Linked DNA regions of Homo sapiens. The protein of the gene in region 2 interacts with the protein of the main gene of each other region in a biochemical or structural test. Each region holds a gene or a part of one and is shown on either strand. Other genes may lie near its edges.

Region 1 (3,816 bases), on a different chromosome or scaffold from region 2:
ACGCACACGGCGGCCACCTTGGCGACCACAGTGGCGGCACGGGACTCTGTCTCTTTAGAGGCCCAGATGGAGACAGTACACCCCGAGTTGCTCAGGCCTCCCCTGAACCTGTTACAACCTTCACTAAATCCACAACCACACACGGCTTCATGGGTCCCACGTCAGCAAAACGTCCCATGTCAGCTGCTTTCGACCTTCATTTCTTTGCTTTCAGAGGAAAAAACACCCCGAAGACAGGTAACAAGTGTGACTTGACAGTACTGCGACAATACTCCTGTTTGTGAAACTCGGAACACAAGACTCTGGAGGCTGTGTCTCCAGCAAATGTCCAGAGCGTACTGTTTTATGTATTCAAAAAAACAAAACAGAGAAATAAGAAGAGGTCAATAAATGTCCCCAAAAACCCTGGAGAGATACTAACTTTCAATCTAAGAAAAAGAACAGCTTCCCAGGGCCCTGCCAGTGAGACACAAGGACACAGAATGTAACTTGCTGATGCCAGGTTAAAATGAAATTAACTACATCAGAAAAAACCTCCGCAGACCATCAAGAGATGTGTCTAACGTTCTCATCTACAAAACCAGGTTAAATATTTAGCCACACTCATCACGTCATCTGCTTGGGGGGTACCCAGCCCCCAAAGACTCAAGTGGCCTTCACAACAGGTGACACCCCTCAAGGGGCCTGAGACCTCCTGCCTGGAAGGACACCAGCCTTGCTTGGAGTCTCCGGCAAGCCCCGAGGAAGGTGAGCCTCCCCAAGGAAATCACGTACGTTTGACACACAGCAGCAGCAAATACTCACCGTGGAAAAAGAGCCTTCCCCAAGGATTTTCCCAAACTTGAAGTCCTCAGGCCGCTTCTTCCGAGGCTGCGGCGGAGGCTGGGCATGCTGCAGGGAGCCGGCGCCGGGCCGAGGCTCGGCTGCAGTGCCGTCCATGGCGGGGCCCTGCCTGCTGCCACCAGGAATGCCAGGGGGCGTGCTGGACTCAGTCTGGGTCCTCACCATTGATGGGGATGGGCAGGAACATAACACCACGCTGGACTGGATGGGCACGGCGTCATACTAGGCGACAAAGAGGAAAAGGAAGTAAGGCTCAAGGCAGCTGCCTTGCTCTCAATGCACGGACTAAGGTTTAAGGACCTCATTTCAACGCTCAAAAACAAACCCCAAGCACAGGGCAGGCCAGCTGAGCCCCGCGGTCTGCTGTGAGCTGCCGGCCTCCTCTCCTGAGTCCTGCCCGTGCCATGGCTCCCCGCTAATCCACCAGGCAGCGCCTCGCCCTCCTCCTGTCCCTCGCGCTGCCTGAGCCTCCAGCCAACTCATCCCAAGGCCAAGGTAACCTGAGCAGAGATAGCACGGCACATCTTTAATTGTGGGGGGGATGGAGAGATAAGAGTGATGATCGCATGTGTTTACAATACACAGAGACGCCCAGTGCTGGCAAGACTATAATAAAGCGAGCGCACTCACACCACTGCGGCTGGCACCAAAAACCGGGATTGCAGTGGAAATGTTTTTGGAAAGCAGTTTGGCAACTGTCAACAAAGCGACTACAGAACAGTTGTCAATGAGACACAGAAATACGAAGGAGAGGAGGGAGGGCAGAAACCCAGTTAACAATGTAAGCGGGCACGGAGGGAAGATCAGCGTGCAAAGCTAGGTCGGCAAGACGTGCAAGGTGCACCCACAGCCATAACAATCCCTCCCCAGACCCCAACGTGTCCTCACGGTGGTGGCAGTGGCCCCCCGCACTACAGAAGAACAATGCGAGGCGAGCTCAGGCGCGCTGATGGTGGTTTCCGATACAACTCCCCACTCAAAGAACCCCGGAGAGCTCTTGATTCCATCTCTCAGTAGGGTCCTGAAGTCCATGCTGTCTGAAGACACAGGGTCTCCCCCTGCGTCTGTGCCAGGACAGAGGGACTGCCACCAGCCAAGCTGCAATCCTTTTAAACGCTAAAAACGGCCGGGCTTGGTGGCTCATGCCTGTAGTCCCAGCAGTTTGGGTGGATGAGGCGGGTGGATCCCCTGCGGTCGGGAGTTCAAGATCAGCCTGACCAACACGAATAAACCCCTTCTCTACTAAAAATACAAAATTAGGCCGGGCACAGTGGCTCAGGCCTGTAATCCCAGCACTTTGGGAGGCAGAGGCGGGAGGATCACCTGAGGTCAGGAGTTCGAGACCAGCCTGACCACATGGAGAAATCCCGTCTCTACTAAAAATACAAAAAAACTAGCCGGGCTTGTTGGCGCATGCCTGTAATGCCAGCTACTTGGGAGGCTGAGGCAGGAGAATCGCTTCAACCTGCAAGGCAGAGGTTGCAGTGAGCTGATAGCATGCCATTGCACTCCAGCCTAGGCAACAAGAGTGAAATTTCGTCTCAAAAAAAAAAAAAAAAAAAAAAAATAGGCCGGGCGCAGAGGCCAAAGTGGGTGGATCACTTCAGCCCATGAGTTCAAGACCAGCCTGGGCAAACACAGCAAAACCTCACCTCTACTAAAAATATAAAAATTAACCAGGTACGGTGGCATGTGCCTGTCGTCGCAGTTAATTGGGAGGCTGAGGTAGGAGGATTACCTAAGCCCGGGGAGGTCGAGGCTGCAATGAGCCAAGATCACATCACTGCACTCCAGCCTGGACGACAGAGGGAGATCCTGCCTCAAAAATAAAAAATAATAAGTAAATAAATAAAAAGAATATATTCACTATTTTGCTTATCAAAGTCTCTTAAAGGAGGTGACTTACCTACGCTATGGACCCAATTACTCAGCCAATAAGAGGACACGGTCCCTGCCCATAGAAAGCTGATGTCCAGCCTGACCTCAATACAAAACCATCCAGTTAAAGTGGTGGGGGTGGCTATGCAGAGACGGGCGGGTGCCGGGAGAGTCAAGGGCAGCCCCTTGGCTGGCCAGGGGCTCAGACAGACCAGCTGGGGAGATGCATCACTCGCCCAGGAAAACTGATGACAGCTTAGATGGCACTGCAAGAGCAGGGAGGATCACACTCATGTCCAGAAAGTGAAACATAAAACAGCTAAACATGTACCACACAGCTTTCATACAAAAATTTTATATACACAAATTTTGAAAAAATAGAGATGGGGTTTTGCTTGTTGTCCCGGCTGGTTTCGAACTCCTGAACTCAAGTGATCTGCCTGCCTCAGCTTCCCAAAGTGATGCAATTACAGGCATGTGCCACCATGCCTGGTGACTTTTTTTCTGTTTTGAGACGGGGTCTCACTCTGTCTCCCAGGCTGGAGTTCAGTGGCATGATCATAGCTCACTGCAGTCTCGACCTCCTAGGCTCAAGTGATCCTCCCACCTCAGCCTCCTGAGTAGTGGGACCACAGGTGTGCACCACCGTGTCCAGCTAATTTTTGTAGAGATGGGGTCTCATCATGCTGCCCAGGCTGGTCTCAAACTCCAGGGCTCGAGTGATCCGCCATCCTTGGCCTCCCAAAGTGCTGGATTACAGACCTGAGCCACCACACCAGGCTGCCCCACACATTGTAAAGTTTCGCTTCCCTCTAATGTCAGATTCCAAAGACAGCAGCCTTCATGAGTCAGAAAGAAACATCGGTCATTTTGAAATCAACATCCAACTGAAGTGTAGAAAGGCCTCTGGATTTTTGAAACGGCAACAACAGATGATGTAATACAAAGACGCCCCCACCCCACTGCTTTCCCACTGCATGCTTTACATGACATGGCACAGCTTCCACGCCAGCAGCTTCAATCATGTAAAGCGAATGCAGTCCCATCAAGACCACAGCATTGGCTGAGCAGCTACTCCATGCTGGGCACCGTCCT
Region 2 (3,816 bases):
TTTTGTATTTTTAGTAGAGACAGGGTTTCGCCATGTTGGCCAGGCTGGTCTTGAACTCCTGACCTCAAGTGATCCCCCCACCTCGGCCTCCCAAAGTGCTGGGATTATAGGCATGAGCCACCGCGCCCGGCAGGCTTCATTTTTCTCTTCCACCTCTCTTCCTGCCAGACTCCCGGGCTCCAATATCCCAAGAAAGAACAAATTAGGGCAAAATTAGGGCAGAAAAAGTAATAAACTACACCAGAAAAGGAGGAACCCTGAAAGTAGAAAGCAAAAGGGTATAAAAGAGGAAGCAGGGTCATGGGGATGGGTTTAAGTTTGTGAAGAAAAGATATGAGATCTAAAGGGTGAAGGTATTTCTTTGCCAACTACAAGGTAGGGGTGTGAGTTCCCTAGAGGAAGTACCATCAAGAGAAGTCAGGGGAATAGTTGCCAAGAGGATAAAGTGAAGAGACTGGGTGCGGTGGCTCACACCTGTAATCCCAGCACTTTGGGATGCCGAGGCAGGCAGATCACTAGGTCAGGAGTTCGAGACCAGCCTGGCCAGCATAGTGAAACCCCGTCTCTACCAAAAATACAAAAAAAATTAGCTGGGCATGGTGGCAGACCCCTGTAATCCCAGCTATTCAGGAGGCTAAGGCAAGGAGAATCGCTTGAACCTGGAAGGCAGAGATTGCAGTAAGCTGAGATCACACCACTGCACTCCAGCCTGGGTGACAGTGTGAGACTCCGCCTCAAAAAAAATAAAAATAAAAATAAAAAAGAGAATAAAGTGAAGAGAGAGCTCAACATCCCTCGTGGGCCCTGAAATAGGGTGGAATGTGTGAGAAACCAGATTCTGTGTGTGCTTGATAAGCTAATAGTAAGTTCATTTGGTTTGTAGATGATACTACCCCTTTCGTTTCAAGAAAGGAGAGGAGAATGGGGATCCTGGCCAGTATAACAAGGAGTATTAGATTCTAGAAATTCGGATTGAGTCATTTGCATGTTATTCTCACAGACTAGTAAATAAAATAAAGTCACTCCCAAAAAAGAACAGAAAGTAAAAGAAAGCACAAGACCACGATATCTTTGCCTTGAAGGACTACATTACTGGATAGAAGACGTAGCATTTTAGATACATTTTAGGGAGAGGAAAATTAAACTTGGCCCTCCTGTGCTAGGTGGGAGAACACAAAGTTTGGCTGTCTCGAGAACTCTGCAAGGTAGTTCCTCAGTGCCTTGCAAATATAGGTCAGTATTATACCAAGCCTCCATCAGGACAGAAGAAGTACAAGTGGTAAGGAATGGCATTAGGAGCTCAGGCTTCTAAATCCAGTAATCAGGAGAACTACCAGTAGGAATGGAGGACAAGACTGAATTGTACGAGCGTGCAATGCAATCATCTTCAACAAGACTGACAAACTTATCGAGGTTAGTTTCCAGTGCAATAGTGGGGCAAATGGGTAGGTGGGTAGGCAATAGCTAAATTGGGGTGAGTAAACCAAGAGGTTCAACTTTAGATACATAAAATGTGAGAAAATGGCAAGAAATGTGTGTGTTGTTGGTTGGTTGGTTGGTTTTTGAGACAGAATCTTGCCTTGTCACCCAGCAGAGAGTTCAGTGGCGCAATCTTGGCTCACTGCAACCTCTGCCTCCCAGGTTCAAGTGATCCTCCCACCTCAGCCTCCTGAGTAGCTGGGATTACAGGCACCTGCCACCATGCCCAGCTAACTTTTGTATTTTTATTAGAGACAGGGTTTTACCACGTTGGCCAGGCTGGTCTTGAACTCTTGACCTCAAGTGATCCGCCTGCCTCAGCCTCCCAAAGTGTGGGGATTACAGGCGTGAGCCGCTGCGCTCAGCCAAGAAATGTGTTTTAAGTGTCCTGTGAGTAAATGAAAATGTAGGACTAGATGGTCCCTAGTGAGAGGCTGGAGATGGTGTTAGAGAAATCAGCTTCAGAGGTGATGTGATACATTTATTCTGGTGGTGGCATTTTTAAAAATTGCACCTTAATGTGCACAAAGGTCAAGAAATGCTGATAAATATGTTCAAGTGATAGGCTGATTCACAGGAATGAGTAGTGTCAATTCATAGATGTTTGTGCACTTGCTCTGTAGGAAGTACCTTGTTGATAACTGTTTGGTTAGTATCATTACTATAATATACACAGAACCAGGATGTATCTATGTCTCCTTTATAGAACCAAGATGTAGCCAGATCTTTGATATGTCTCTGGTCTTCTAATGAATCTCCAGAAGTTGCAATAGTACCAGTCTGATTTCTAGTATAGTTTAAACTGTTAGCACCTAAACCTGGCCTTCAGAACTAGGTATCTTCTTTCTGTTAGGATTCAATGAATCCTTTATATTTAATAAATATATATATATATATATATATTTTTTTTTGACATGGGATCTCACTCTGTCATCCAGGCTAGAGTGCAGTGGCGCGATCTCGGCTCACTGCAACTTTGCCTGCAATCCCAGCTACTCGGGAGGCTGAGATAGGAGAGTCACTTGCGGTGAGCCAAGATCGCACCATTGCACTCTGGTCTGGGCAAAAAGAGCAAAACTCCATCTCAAAACAGACAAACAAACAAACAAACAAAAAACTGAAATTGTGGTAAGTGCTATGAAAAATAACAAATGGTGCTAATAAGAACTTACAATAGAAGATTTGATCTATTCAAAGAGGTCCAGAAAGCTTTCTCTGGCCAGGTGTGGTGGCTCATGGTTGTAATCTCAGCACTTTGGGAGGCTGAGGCTGGAGGATCACTTGAGTCCAGGAAGTCAAGTCTGCAGTGAGCTATGATCAAGCCACGGCACTCCAGCCTGGGTGACAGAGCAAGACCCTGTCTCCAGAAAAAAAAAAAAAGAAAGAAAAGAAGAAAAGAAAAGAAAGCTTTCTTTGAAGAATTGACCACCAAATTGAGATCTAAAGAATTATTAGTCGGGCATGGTGGCTCACACCTGTAATCTCAACACTTTGGGAGGCTGAGATGGGAACCCTAGAGGTTGAGGCTGCAGTAAGCCATGATCACACTACTGCACTCCAGCCTAGATGACCAAGTGAGGCCCTGTCTCAAAAAAAAAAAAAAAAAAAGGCCAGGCATGGTGGCTCACGCCTATAATCACTTTGGGAGGCCAAGGTGGGCAGATCACGAGGTCGGGAGATCGAGAGACCATCCTGGCTAACACAGTGAAACCTTGTCTCTACTAAAAACACAAAAAATTAGCCGGGCATGGTGACACACACCTGTAGTCCCAGCTATTCAGGAGGCTGAGGCAGGAGAATAACTTGAACCCAGGAGGCAGAGGTTGCAGTGAGCAGAGATCGTGCCACTGCACTCCAGCCTGGGTGACAGAGCGAGACTCCGTCTCAAAAAAAAAAAAAAAAAATTACCAAATGTTATCTAGGTAAAGAGGAGTGTGAGGAATGTTCAAGGCGGAGGTAACAACATGTGTGCAAGGCCCTATGGCAGAGGAAGCATGGCAAGGACAAGAAAATGAGCATGCTATAAGAAGCTGGAGAGACACCATGTAGGACATTGATAGCCATTTTAAAAGGTTCTTTGGGAGGTAAATGAAGTTCTATTTGTGAAGCACTTTTAGCACAGAGTCTGGAACACAGTTCTATGGATTAGCTGTTGTTACTGTGGAAAGTAGATGAACAGAAAACGTATATAAGGAAATGCAGATTTAAAATAATCATGGAACATTTTAAGGCTCAGAAATCCAATGAATGAAATTAACATAATAAAGTACTATTTTATGCTAGTTATATCAGAAAAAAAGTCATGATTTTTACCTGATACAGTTTAAGTACAGAGGT

Evidence for each region.
Region 1: of the proteins of PTPN22 (region 2) and PDPK1, one has a biochemical effect on the other in vitro, tested with the Homo sapiens proteins (one large-scale study listed by IntAct).

Annotation. Positions count from the first base shown.
Region 1 is NC_000016.10:2,554,952-2,558,767, reverse strand, and holds part of PDPK1 (3-phosphoinositide-dependent protein kinase 1), read right to left. Parts: intron 1,066-3,816; coding exon 805-1,065; intron 789-804; exon of another isoform or gene 1-788. UniProt on the Homo sapiens protein: Serine/threonine kinase which acts as a master kinase, phosphorylating and activating a subgroup of the AGC family of protein kinases.
Region 2 is NC_000001.11:113,861,547-113,865,362, forward strand, and holds part of PTPN22 (tyrosine-protein phosphatase non-receptor type 22), read right to left. Parts: intron 2,732-3,816; exon of another isoform or gene 2,652-2,731; intron 1-2,651. UniProt on the Homo sapiens protein: Acts as a negative regulator of T-cell receptor (TCR) signaling by direct dephosphorylation of the Src family kinases LCK and FYN, ITAMs of the TCRz/CD3 complex, as well as ZAP70, VAV, VCP and other key signaling molecules.